Linked DNA regions of Homo sapiens: region 2 is linked to region 1. The links come from fine-mapping of genetic effects on gene expression. A gene starts in region 1. The other region holds a variant in brackets. All regions are shown on one strand. Distances are from middle to middle. Region 1 holds the start of MACROH2A1 (macroH2A.1 histone). Region 2 has its middle 13 kb from the start of DCANP1.

The links. PIP is the estimated chance that this variant, and not a neighbour inherited with it, causes the effect. A credible set is the group of variants that fine-mapping cannot tell apart.
Region 2: its variant is the best candidate, but not a certain one, in a credible set for the expression of MACROH2A1 in whole blood (TOPMed, PIP 0.59).

Annotation. Positions count from the first base shown.
Region 1 is chr5:135,397,707-135,400,610 of GRCh38, reverse strand. MACROH2A1 (macroH2A.1 histone) reads left to right here and starts at 1,380. Exons shown (of 9, transcript NM_138610.3): 1 at 1,380-1,549. RefSeq lists enhancers at 123-628, 629-1,134 and silencers at 1,035-1,494, 1,505-1,674, 1,985-2,044.
Region 2 is chr5:135,432,554-135,435,457 of GRCh38, reverse strand. No RefSeq gene overlaps it. Among named protein-coding and RNA genes, the nearest start is that of DCANP1, 13 kb to the left of the region's middle. RefSeq lists an enhancer at 1-1,549. The variant C/A (reference allele first, on the strand shown) is at 1,321.

The DNA.
Region 1 (2,904 bases):
ACATCCACACGGCTTGCTCCCTCAATTTCTTCAGGCTTTAAATGTTACTTTCTCATAGAGGCCTTCTCTTGTATTTGAGCCTCACTCTTATCTCACACTTCCTATTCCCCTTCTCCGCCTTATTTTTCTCCACCCCATGGAGACCCTCTGACACATTCTCCCGTTTGTCTGTCTTTCCCCCACGAGACTGCAAACTACAGGAGGGCAGAGATTTCTGCCTGTTCTCTTGGCTGTTTCATATCCAGCACCCAAATCGATGTATGACACAAAATACGTTCTCAGTACTTAATCGAATTAACGAATGCATGAATGGCAGGTATTGGACATTGTTTTGCAAACTCTTAAAGTAAGGTGTAAAGCATCCCGGTGAGGTGGAGGTTACTGCCGCTGCGATTCCCGCGCAGCCTGAGGACTGGGGGGTGGGGGTGGGGGTCTCTAATTACCTCCATAATCCCCAGTAGCGGCACTTTAAACTTCACATCAACCCTGAGGGATGTGTATTATTATCCAAATTTAGTTCACAGCTGGATGGAGAAGTGGCTTCCGGCTCCACACTTTGGAGGGAGGGGAGTAGAGGGCAGGCCCCCATTTAAGTACCCGGGATGGGGCACCAATGCCTTCAGGCGGTAAACCAATTTAGGAAGACGTGGCGGGCTTTGTGGCGGCTCCTCCTCTTTCGGCCTGTCCGCAGTTTTTAAAAAACGTGTGTGATGATAAGGAATCACTGTCTACATTAGTAATTCCCAACTTGGGTCCGAAAGTGAACTTTTGCTGAAGCGAAGTAGCTAACCGCTTCCATGTGCAAGGCAGGTTCCAGACTTCGGGGTGAGGAGGATTAACTGAAGGACCCCAGGGGAACCGGGTGCGCAGTAATTGATCTTGGGGCAGACCAGGGCTTGGCGGTGGCCTGTATCTAAAGACAGCGGGGTCTCTGAGGCGGGGCAGGGGGGAGTTGGCATTGACTGGGGAGGGAAGAGCGATCGCTGGTAACAGCCATTGTGCCTTCCCACTGGGTTAGTGGGAAGGTTCCTAAAGATGCCGTGGCAGCGACAGTCCCGTGCTCAGAGCCAGGCACACAGTAGGCGTTCACTCGAGACGCAGAGTCTGGGACGCGCCCTGAAGAAGCTCCTCTCCAGGGGCCTGGCCCTTCCCAAGGACTGGGCTCTGGGCGTCCCCGGGGTCATGGGTCAGACCTCGCGTCCGGGGTGCGGGCTGGTGCCTGGGCGCAGAGCGGCCGGCGTCAACGGGTAGGGCGCGGGCCCGGGGTCAAGGCCGGGGCGCCGGGCGGCACGGGCGCGGAGGCCGGACGCTCGGGGCCGCGAAGGGATGTGACGAGCGGCGCGCTGTGCATTGTGGGAAGCCGGCCGCGAGGACTGGTTCCAGTTCACTCGGCAGCGGCGCCGGGCGGAGGGGGAGAGCGCGGGCCGCGCGGGCGGGAAGCGAAGAGGCGGGCGGGCCAGCGAGGAGCGCGGAGAGAAAAGGCGCGAGCGGCCAGGAGGGCTCAGGCCGAGACACCTTGCAGCTGCCGCCGCCGCCACCGAGCCGCCGCGTAAGTGCCGCGCGGGCCCCCTTGCCGCACTCCCTGTCCCCGCCGCTCGGGTCCGGCCGCGGGTGCCCGGGAGCGGCCCGGCCTGGCGCGCACCGGTGTGGTGCGGGCCGGGCTCGGGCCGCCGGGTTCGGTGTGGCCCACGCCGGGTCCTCGCGCGTGCACTACGTCCTCCCAGGCCTTGTCGGGCCGCGCGGGATTCCCTTTGGTTTTGTTCAAAAAAGAAACCTGGAAACCAACTTCTCTTCGAAACGCATCCCCCTGCCCGCGCCTGGGCGCTTTTGTGGGAAAAAAGCGGTGCTGGCGCCTACCCTGGCGACCCTTCCTGGGGCGGGCTCACGGGCCAGGCCCGAGGCCGCAGGAGGCCCCGCGGCGCTGGCTAGGCAGTCTGGGCCTGGGCACCCGGGAGCTGCTGTGAGCAGAGTTGTACTTGGTGAGGCCCCCGCCGGCCCGCGAGTTGCCGGCCCCGGCACAATAAGTCGGGCCCGAGCCCCGGGGGGCCGAGGTGTAGGCGTCTGGCTCGCTATCTGCAGGGAGGGGAAGGCGGGGGCTACTCGCGGGATTGAAGCCGGGCTGGTGCGGGGGACCGGGTTGGGGAGTGGTCCAAGGATGGGCTGGAGAGGGGCCACGGGAACCCCCGCTGCTCCCGATTGTCTCGGTATCAGCCTTTTGTTTGCTTTGTGGTAGGAAGGGTTTGCTTTTTTTAAAAGGTAACTCCGGAAGGCTGTAGGCTTCCCCGGGTGGAGAAGGCCAGCAGGAAAGAGCCTCGCTGGGGGTGGGGTGGAGTGGGGAGGTGAGTGTGCAGGATGCTGCTGGCAGTGTCACCTGACAACAGGTGTGCGACATGGCGCTCCCTACCCCCACTCCTGCAGGGGCCACAGATCACTCAAGGAGTTGGTCAGTACATTGCTTGAAAGGTTCTTTTAGACAAGATGTTAGGGGAAATGTTTCTGAGTTTCAAAGTGAGAGACTTCTGTACAAACAACTGGGACAAACCTTGAATTCAACAATTACAATGACTATAAAGGCCTTGTAAGATTTTAATGACCCAGTAAACAGCACATAAGAATAGACAATTAGAGGGGGCACTCCTGCTAGCTTCCCTCTTTTCTTCCACCTTTGTGGTTTGAGGTTTTACCGTTAAAGTAGGGGGTAAGGGAAGTGTTTTGTTCCAAAGCTCCCTGCTCCAGGGAGTCGGGCATTTTTTAACAGTCTTAGGTTTGAATGGGAGACTCGAGTTGTAAATTAGGTGGAATTCACCTACTGCAGGCCACCTTTAGGCTACTAGCCTGTTGTCAGAGGTGTTAACTCTGAAATGGACACCTCTTGCCTGCAACTGGAATTAATACCCATTGTAC
Region 2 (2,904 bases), 35 kb before region 1:
GGCTAATCAGAAACACCTGTGTACATGGAATTTCCTGCCCCAGTTCAGCCTTCATTTCCTCTGCCAGTAAAAACCCAAGACGTGCAAAGGTGAAAGAAACCAGCCAGTCAATCACCCAGACGACGGCCACCAGGGCCGCAGAGACAGGACTTTCTAAATTAAATTTTAATTCCCACCCGATGGCCCAGCTGAGACAGCCATGATTCAAACCTTGCAACGGGCTGCCTTGGCCAGGCAGACCTTCACCCAGGTCCTTGCAGGAATTAACCCCACCCCCTGGCCAGCGGACGGTGCTGTCTGCCTTGGCCATCGGGTTGTAGAATGAGACCCCAAGAATGAAAGGGACCCCCTTTCCCTTCAACTTCATTGTGCAGCTGCAAGAGTTGCCCAGCTGATTAGCTGCTCACTACTTCAGACTGAATTATTAGGTGCTGGAGAGATCAGAGCCCGCCAGTGACTCGGGGACATTTAGCAAGACAACATCAAAGGCAGGGGCTGCCCGGGTCCAAAGTGTAGGATAACGGTTAGAGCCCGAGGGTCTGGGCTCTGTCCTGGCGCAGCGGGTTTAGGTGAGGAGAGAGTCGTAAAAATGCCTCCGTTTTTCCAGAACATTTTTCCAGAGATTCCTGCAGGCTCGGGGAGGAGGGGCTTGGCGTGAGAAGAAGAGAAGTATTGAGCTGCCCACTTTATGGTCAAACAAACTGCAGCATCTTCTGGGAGAATGACTTGCCTGACCACACAGCTGGCTGGGAGCAGCTCGCCAGGCTGAGCCCATCACCGGAGACTGAGTCACGACCCCCATCTCCCAACCTCAGCCAGACATGGGAGGGACAGGGAGGTGGCCTTTAGAGGCAAATATCCAGGGGTAAGAACTCGGGCTTGGGAGTCATGGAGTCCTGGACACGAAGCCCAGCTTGTGCCCTTCTGCAGGCTGACTTTCCCCAGTCTCAGCCTCATGGTCCACAAAATGGAAAATAACTGTAGCCCCCCCTAGCCCTAACCCTCATAGGATTGCTGCAACGAGAACAAGGGCAGAGGGTGCTTTACGCTGAGGAATGTGATGAGCCAGGGCCAGATGGGGCGACCTTTGAGAGAGAGCTTCTGCTTCTCTGCCTGTGGCCTATCAGCGACAGTCACCACGGGAGCAGGAAGAGATGGCCCTCCCTTCAGGAGGATCTGAACCCCTGCTGGACACCACTTCCTGTCAGCCTTATGTCCGGCACCACCATGGTGAGACACATATGTCCCCCTCTCCATTCTATCTGATTGGCCTCCTTGTCAAGGGGCCCAAATGCATATCACTGGCGATGGTGGGCGAGC[C/A]GGCAGGGTCAGGAGTACTGGCACAAATCCTCCTTAGTTTTGCAGAAGCAACTGCACAAGAGAATGTTTGGGATCTTCAGGGCAGCAGATGGGGCTGGAGGCCATGGGCCGACTTCCCAGCAGAAGGACTGTGTAGCGCTCCCCAGGAAGCAAAAAGTGTCCCAGGGTTTCAAATCTGCCTTCTTTTAAAAATAGCTTTATGATTTTTAAATGATCCATACCCGTGCTCTACTGCAACTACATACAGTAACAACATTGCTCAACAATGTTGAGCAAAGCCAGCCAGACACAAATGAGTTCACACTGTGTGATTCCATTTATATGAAGCTTAAAAATAGGCAAACAGAATCTCTGGAGTTTAAATCAGGAAATGGGTCAGCCCTGGGGGGTGGTGACTGGAAGTTGACACTGGAGGTAAGAGCGCCTGTGATGTTCCCTGATCTTGGTGCTGGCTACATGGGTATGACCACGTAGTGAAATCCCCTGAGCCACACACTTATGACTTGTGCACTTTTCTGTATGTCTGTTATATCCAATAATAAATTTCCTTAAAATAAATGGTCAGGCTCATAGCAACATTGTATGTACAAATAAATAAATATGAAACATTGGGCCAGGCACAGTGGCTCACGCCTGTAATTGCAGAGCTTTGGGAGGCTGACACAGGAGGCTTGCTTGAGGCCAGAAGTTCAAGACCCGCCTGGTTTTAAAAATTGCAACAACAAAAAAAATGCATAAAATAAATATAAAACATTGATCCTTATTGAAAAAATGTTTTTTACAATAGAAAATTGGAAACATGTCATTTATCCTACCATCCAGCTTAATTCTTATAATGTTTTATTATATTTCCTTCCCACCTCTTTCCATGTACTGTGTATGTATATTTGGTACTTTTAGTATTATTCTTATATGTAAAATTATAGATCTAACTTTTTTCTTTGTGTCATATTGTGAAGATTTTTGTACACATCTTTAATGACTTCTAAAAACTATCCTGATGAGTATACTATGCCACCACATGGACACATCATGCTTTAACTTAGTGGTTCTCAACCGGAGTGGATTTTGCCTCTCCCCAGAGGACATTTCACAATGTCTGGCTTGGGGAGAGGATACTACCAGTATCCAGCAGGTAGAGGCCAGGGAAGGTCTGTGTCTTGTTCACTTCCATTTCCCAGGGGGCTGGTCCAGACCTGGCACCTGGTCGGGGTTCAGTAAAAATCAGTAGGATGAAAGTGACCCTTCCTCTTTCCTCCCTTGCTTGTGAAGATGACCTGTACTTACATTTGAGTTTCTAGGCCAGGCTCTTTTCTGTCTTTTTCCCTGGATGGGACATATTAGAATAGTTTTTGAAAATGTGTCTAAGGGACTCAGGGTGAAAGTGCAAACCAATCTCAAAGAATACCTGAGTTGCCAGGCAGCAAGAAGACACTGGCACACATTCTCAAAGATGAGCCCAGAAGATATTTCATAATTGCCCAAGACAGTCTCATTACTTTAGTCTAGTAATTATTACTAGACATTATTATAGTCTAGTAATTTGCTTACTTTACAGGCAAGGAAAAATTTATTCAAAATATA